2 separate regions of the Homo sapiens genome follow, and region 2 is linked to region 1. A link means that fine-mapping ties the variant in region 1 to the expression of a gene that starts in the linked region. Tissue or cell type: whole blood. Region 1 holds a variant in brackets; the other region holds the start of a gene. All regions are shown on one strand. Distances are from middle to middle.

Region 1 (2,847 bases):
TTTTACGTGGCTGGACTAGACATAACGCTGAGTCTAGGTTCAGAAGCCCAGGGTGCCAGTGCTGTCCTGGTCACTTCCTATTTGCTCATCCCTGAGCAAATCCCAGGACCTCTTTGGGATCGCTTCTATCTTTTGCCTCCCAAAGGATTCTCTAACAAGGAGGTTGACGGCTTCCCCCAAGGAAGACTCAGAGCACAGGTTCAGGGCAAGTGTTTGATGATCACATTTCTGAATAAAGACAAATTCTTCATTTTGGACAAACAAAAATGAATCTCTGAAAAAACACATGCATGGGAAACCTTAGGGAAGATTCTTACTTTCAATTCAGTTATTGACCCACTTGACACATAATTGCACCCAGTGATACATGGTGGAAAGGAAAGAGTGCACTTAGCTTTTCCTCACAGAACAAACATTTTCTGTTATTTTATAAGCTCCCACAACATAGTTTCCCACATTTTCTAAGGAAAGGAATGTTACATGATAAACATTATACTCAGAGCCTTTACTGTAACAGTAAATTATTTCCTTCATTTTGTCTTAATTTCCAAGTACACCATGTTGAGATCAACAGATCTAGCTATTTACTGTTTAAAGCTCTGAAGTATTAATCCGTAAATTCAGGAAGCATTGCCATCTATAGTGTGCAGTTTGATGTACAGCAGATTGCTGGGTCTTAACAGTGCCTGCCTTGGCTGCAATTTCCCATTTGCTCAACATAAAGGAGAGGCTTGCTACCACAGACTGGAATCAGACATAAGCCATCTGCTCCCACGAGAGCCAAAGTTATAAGAACCATCTCTGTTTGTGGAACAAGTTGTGTTTACCCCAGCTTCTATGGAGTTTAGCTCTGCCCAACTCCTTCATCATGTTTATGTTTCATTGCTCCATTACATATTTCTCCCCAAATCCATCAGGCTGGGCATGATGGTGCATACCTGTAACCCCAGCACTTTGGTAGTCTGAGGTGGGAGGATGGCTTGAGCCCAGGAGTTCGAGACCAGCCTGAGCAACAGAGTGAGACCCCATTTCTACAAATAATAAAAAAGTTAGCTGGGCATGGTGGTGCACACCTGTGGTCCCCGCTGTTTGTGAGGCTGAGGCAGGAGGATAACTTGATCCCAGGAGGTCAAGGCTGCAGTGAGCCCTGATTGTACCATTGCACTCCAGCCTGTGTGACAGAGCAACACCCTGTCTCAAAAAAAAAAGGCCCCAAAATCAATCCTATGATTTCAGCAGCATTCATTGTGATTTCTTTCCACTATAATGTAATACCTTTCCTTATATATCACATTGTGCAACTACTACTATATGACATTGCCAGATCCATTTTCTTCTACCATTCACTGTCTATTGATTACCCAGTGACATCTGAACTAAGTGTGAAGTTCATAATGAATAGATTTTTAAAATAAAGAATGAGGACAATTCTCTGAGCCCCCCAAAGTTTATGAAATACAATTTATTTCACTGAACCTCTTAAGTTTAGTTAAATTGAAAGAAATGTCACCTCCCCAGCTGAAGTGTGAGCAACTTGACTAATGAGGCTGAGCCTTGCAGCTCCTTTGTAACCTCACCATAATTAGCA[C/T]GCTTAGGGGCCCCCGCATTGCTGACTGGCTAGCTAGAAGTGACTTTGCGCCCTACTTTTTACTACAATGTCTTTCAGAATGCAACTGTGATTGGTGGTTAGACCCTTTGCTTTCGAAACAAGTGCCCAAGAAATGCTTTTTTTTTTTTTTTTTTTGCTTCTGACTAATCTTCTGGGTTCATACATGATGCTGACTAATCTTGCTACTTTCAGATGTGATGCTGAGTGGTCTTCCGGAAATGCCAAGTAAGGAGGTACTTTAAGAATTAGCAAAGGTCCCTTAGTGAGAATTGACCTGGCATGAAGGGACATCACACATTGTGAGAGTATCTTATAATCTTGTAACTACTTCTATGAATAAGTGCATGCACAGTGACAAGCAATAAATAGGCCAGTTCTTCTGAAAATTCTAGAGAACAGTTAAGTGATGACCCTTCACAGTTTCTGTTTCTCTTCTGGTTCAGTTTTAACTCTTGTACAGTGTACAGGCTTTGATTGAGTACCGCCACTTTAAATTATACTTCTGAAGTTATGGAGGGCAGATTAGGAAGCAAGCGGCCTCTCCCCCAGTGATGGGCAAGGGTATACACTTCTATAGGCCACGTTTAGACCATACAGGAGGGAAGCAGCCAGTCCCTATCTTGTAAAGAGCCCTCCCAAAGGACTTTCAGCTAGGGATGAAGCAGCCTAAGCTCCTAAAGCCTAGATATACAATATTGGATATAAAAGGTAAGCGTGGGGAGTTGCAAGGGACCAGCAGAGGAGACATAGCCCATACCAGGGGACTGTAATCTCCAAATGCCTTCACAAAACTGTCTCCCAAGAGAGCCAGCTTTAAATATCTCTCATACCCAAGCGGTATCCATGTTAGATTAGAGCTGTCCTGCTCAAGTAAGACTTCTCCTTTCCCCTCCTGGAGGAGCCAGGGGCAGCACACTGAGTGTGGAAGGAGGGATTGGTGGGGAAAGAGAAAAGGGGCAAATTATAACTTATCCCCTCTATACTGCAGGCTTCTAAGCTGGAGGCAAACCAGGCTAGGAAAGGGGAAACTTCAAAGTTGGTGAGAATCTTTAGTTCTCATACTGAACTTTTTATTCTCTAAAAAAGGCTAGAATAGAAAAAGTCCACAGAGTGGTTTTCAGGGTTAGAATTAAGAAAAAATAAAATTGCTTTTAGTTTATCATTTGCCACGTAATCAAATACTATAATAGGCATATTATCAAATTTGACATCTCCTAACTAAATGAAAATGACAATAC
Region 2 (2,500 bases), 160 kb before region 1:
GTCAATGGCTGTCACTGGGGTACAATGTTCAGAACGATGCAAACAGACACGGAGGGTTGATTCTTCTTCAGGGAAATGGCTGGCCACTCCCTTGATTTGGGAGAAACTAAACTGGCCTTCTCGTTCCCAGTCCCAGAACCTCCACCCCTTTCGAATTCTTCCCAACGGGCTGACCCTGCCCGGCGCCCAGGAGCGCCCTGGGTATCTCCTGGCTGCTCTCCCGAATCCTTGCGCGCCGCGCCCCTACCAGGTTCACTGGGTGCACGTAGCCGTTCTCATAGCGGTCCTCCTGCAACAGCTGCCGCAGGTGAGCGATGTAACTGGAAGCCAGCCGGAGCGTGTCCAGCTTGGAGAGCTTAGTGTCGGGGGGCACCCAGGGCAGGCTGGTCTTGAGCCTGGAGAAGGCTTTGCTCAGCACGCGCATCCGGGCACGCTCACGGGCGTTGGCCGCGTTCCGCTGCGACTGCTTGCACTCTGCGGCTGAGCCCTTGGCCGGGAGGGGCTTCTTGCCACCACCGCCCGCGCTACCACCTGCGCCGCCGCCCCCAGCCACACGGGGCCGCTTCCTCTTGCAGCCTTCCGCGCTGCCGGCTGTGCCCAGAGCGCAGCGCTCCTCCTCGCCGTCGGGGTCCTCCTCCTCTGCCGACGAGTTGTCACTGGGCGAGGCGTAGCTGCGCTCTACGCCGCGGAGGGGCGGCCTCTTGGAGGCGGGGACCGGGTACTCCCGCTGCAGCCCCCGAAGCTCCATCTCCTCCGGATCACTCACCGAGCCCGTGGACATCCCGTTGTCCCCCTTGCCCACACGCGTCCTCTTTCCTCCCCCCTGGCCAGTCTCGCTGTCTCCGCCTTCCGCTCCCTGGCGGAGGCGGAGGCCAGAGAGCGCTCCAAGGAAGACTAAAAACCCAGGCCGGGAAGCGCGGGGTGAGAAAGCGAGGTGGGTGGCGAGAGCGTGAGCGCCCCTCTGCTGACCCCGGGGAGCGTGGACTACGAGTTGGCGCCCAAGTCCAGAATCCGCGCGCACCGCGGTAAGCTGCGCCTTTTGAAAAGGCTATCTGTACTCCTTGGAACAAACCACCCCGGGCAAAGAAGAGGGGGTTGTAAAGGGGGCCAAGAGGTGGGGCAGGGGCGTGGAAGGGGTGGGGACCGCTTTTCTGCATGCCGAAGAGCGGTTGGTGGAGGCGGGGGAAGGGGACGTCTCTGCAGAGCCGAGATTTGGGCTCTGAAGCCCGACGGCCCTTCAACATGTCTGCGCAGGATAAGTGAGCTTTCGGGGAGTGAAGGGGCACATCTTGTTCCTACCGACGGTGCTTCTACCCCCAGGTAATCTTAGCAGTGGCAAAGATTACCAGACACTTAGAAACGACGGGATTCCGACCTCTGCTTGCCTGCCAGTCTTTCCAGTAGAACTCAGTTTTCAAGTTAACCATTCATGATGTATGATTGTCTACCCAAGCCTTGCTGGACAAGAGAAAAAGCAGAACAGGCAAACAACATCCAACAATGCACAAGTTACCTCTCATTTTCCTCCTCCTTTTCTTATAATATACCTTCATGGTTTACAAAAATGGTTACAATGGTTCGTTGCCTTTTCAAATAACATCTGTAACTTAATGATATTATCTCCAATTTGCAGAACTTGAAGCTGAGCCGCCTAGATAGACGTTAAGTAAAAGACCCAAACTTATTAGGCTAAGTAGAAAAAAAGATTCAAAATCCGCGTTTTGAAATTCTGGCCCGTCGGTATTCTAGTCAGCTCCGTGCCTCCGGGTCACACATCACTGGATGTTGTAGCTGGTATTTTCCACTATCTTGAGAGTTCCATGCGTGATGTGATTTTGTTTTAATACCACAATGCGTGTGTTGGAGGATCCGGCCCTAAAGCTTTGCATTATAATGTAGGGAATCCTTGCTATTGTATTTAATAGATTGTGTATTGAAGAGCGAGCTCCTGGAAGCAGAATGCTAAGTTAGCACAATCGTCCATTCAAAGTAAAAACGACAAAGGAGCACCCTGAATGATCATGTTCCATTCCAAACAAGACTAAAACATCCTGCTCTTCCACACAAGAAAACACAACAATTTTGCAGTCTCATTATTTCCTAACTCGAAGGTCATCGCAGTTCCTGGTCAGGGGATAAGTACGTCTGTGGATACGGGCCCCAGTGGTCAGAGACTGAGTGCCCGCTGTGTGCCCGTCACTGTACTCGCGGCTTGTGAGCAGCTCACTGAGTAATAAAACCCGTATGAGTTTGGCATATGGTTACCCCATTTTACAATGATGAAACTGAGTCGTCACACAGGCTTAGGTGTTCACTTGTTCTTTTCCTGAAAGTCCACAGGCTCCCAAGCTGAGCAAGGTGCAAGGGGACCTATGTGGAGTCAGTCCAGGACAGAGCTGGCAGAGATAGCTGGGCCAGCCTGGCTCCCGCCAGTTCGTACAGCAGAACAAATGCGTCCAGCTCGATGGCTGAAGTGCTGCAACAGGTGGCTGGCAGAGGC

Evidence for each region. PIP is the estimated chance that this variant, and not a neighbour inherited with it, causes the effect.
Region 2: it holds the start of MSC, and the variant in region 1 is fine-mapped to the expression of MSC in whole blood (TOPMed, PIP above 0.99).

What each region holds. Positions count from the first base shown.
Region 1 is chr8:71,998,788-72,001,634 of GRCh38, forward strand. The region is part of intron 4 of MSC-AS1 (MSC antisense RNA 1); the gene reads left to right. Among named protein-coding and RNA genes, the nearest start is that of TRPA1, 75 kb to the right of the region's middle. The variant C/T (reference allele first, on the strand shown) is at 1,589.
Region 2 is chr8:71,843,398-71,845,897 of GRCh38, forward strand. It overlaps MSC (musculin), which reads right to left and starts at 1,015. Exons shown (of 2, transcript NM_005098.4): 1 at 248-1,015. The coding sequence starts at 781. It overlaps MSC-AS1 (MSC antisense RNA 1), which reads left to right. Exons shown (of 5, transcript NR_033652.1): 1 at 1-307; 2 at 832-1,025. RefSeq lists silencers at 364-633, 2,473-2,500.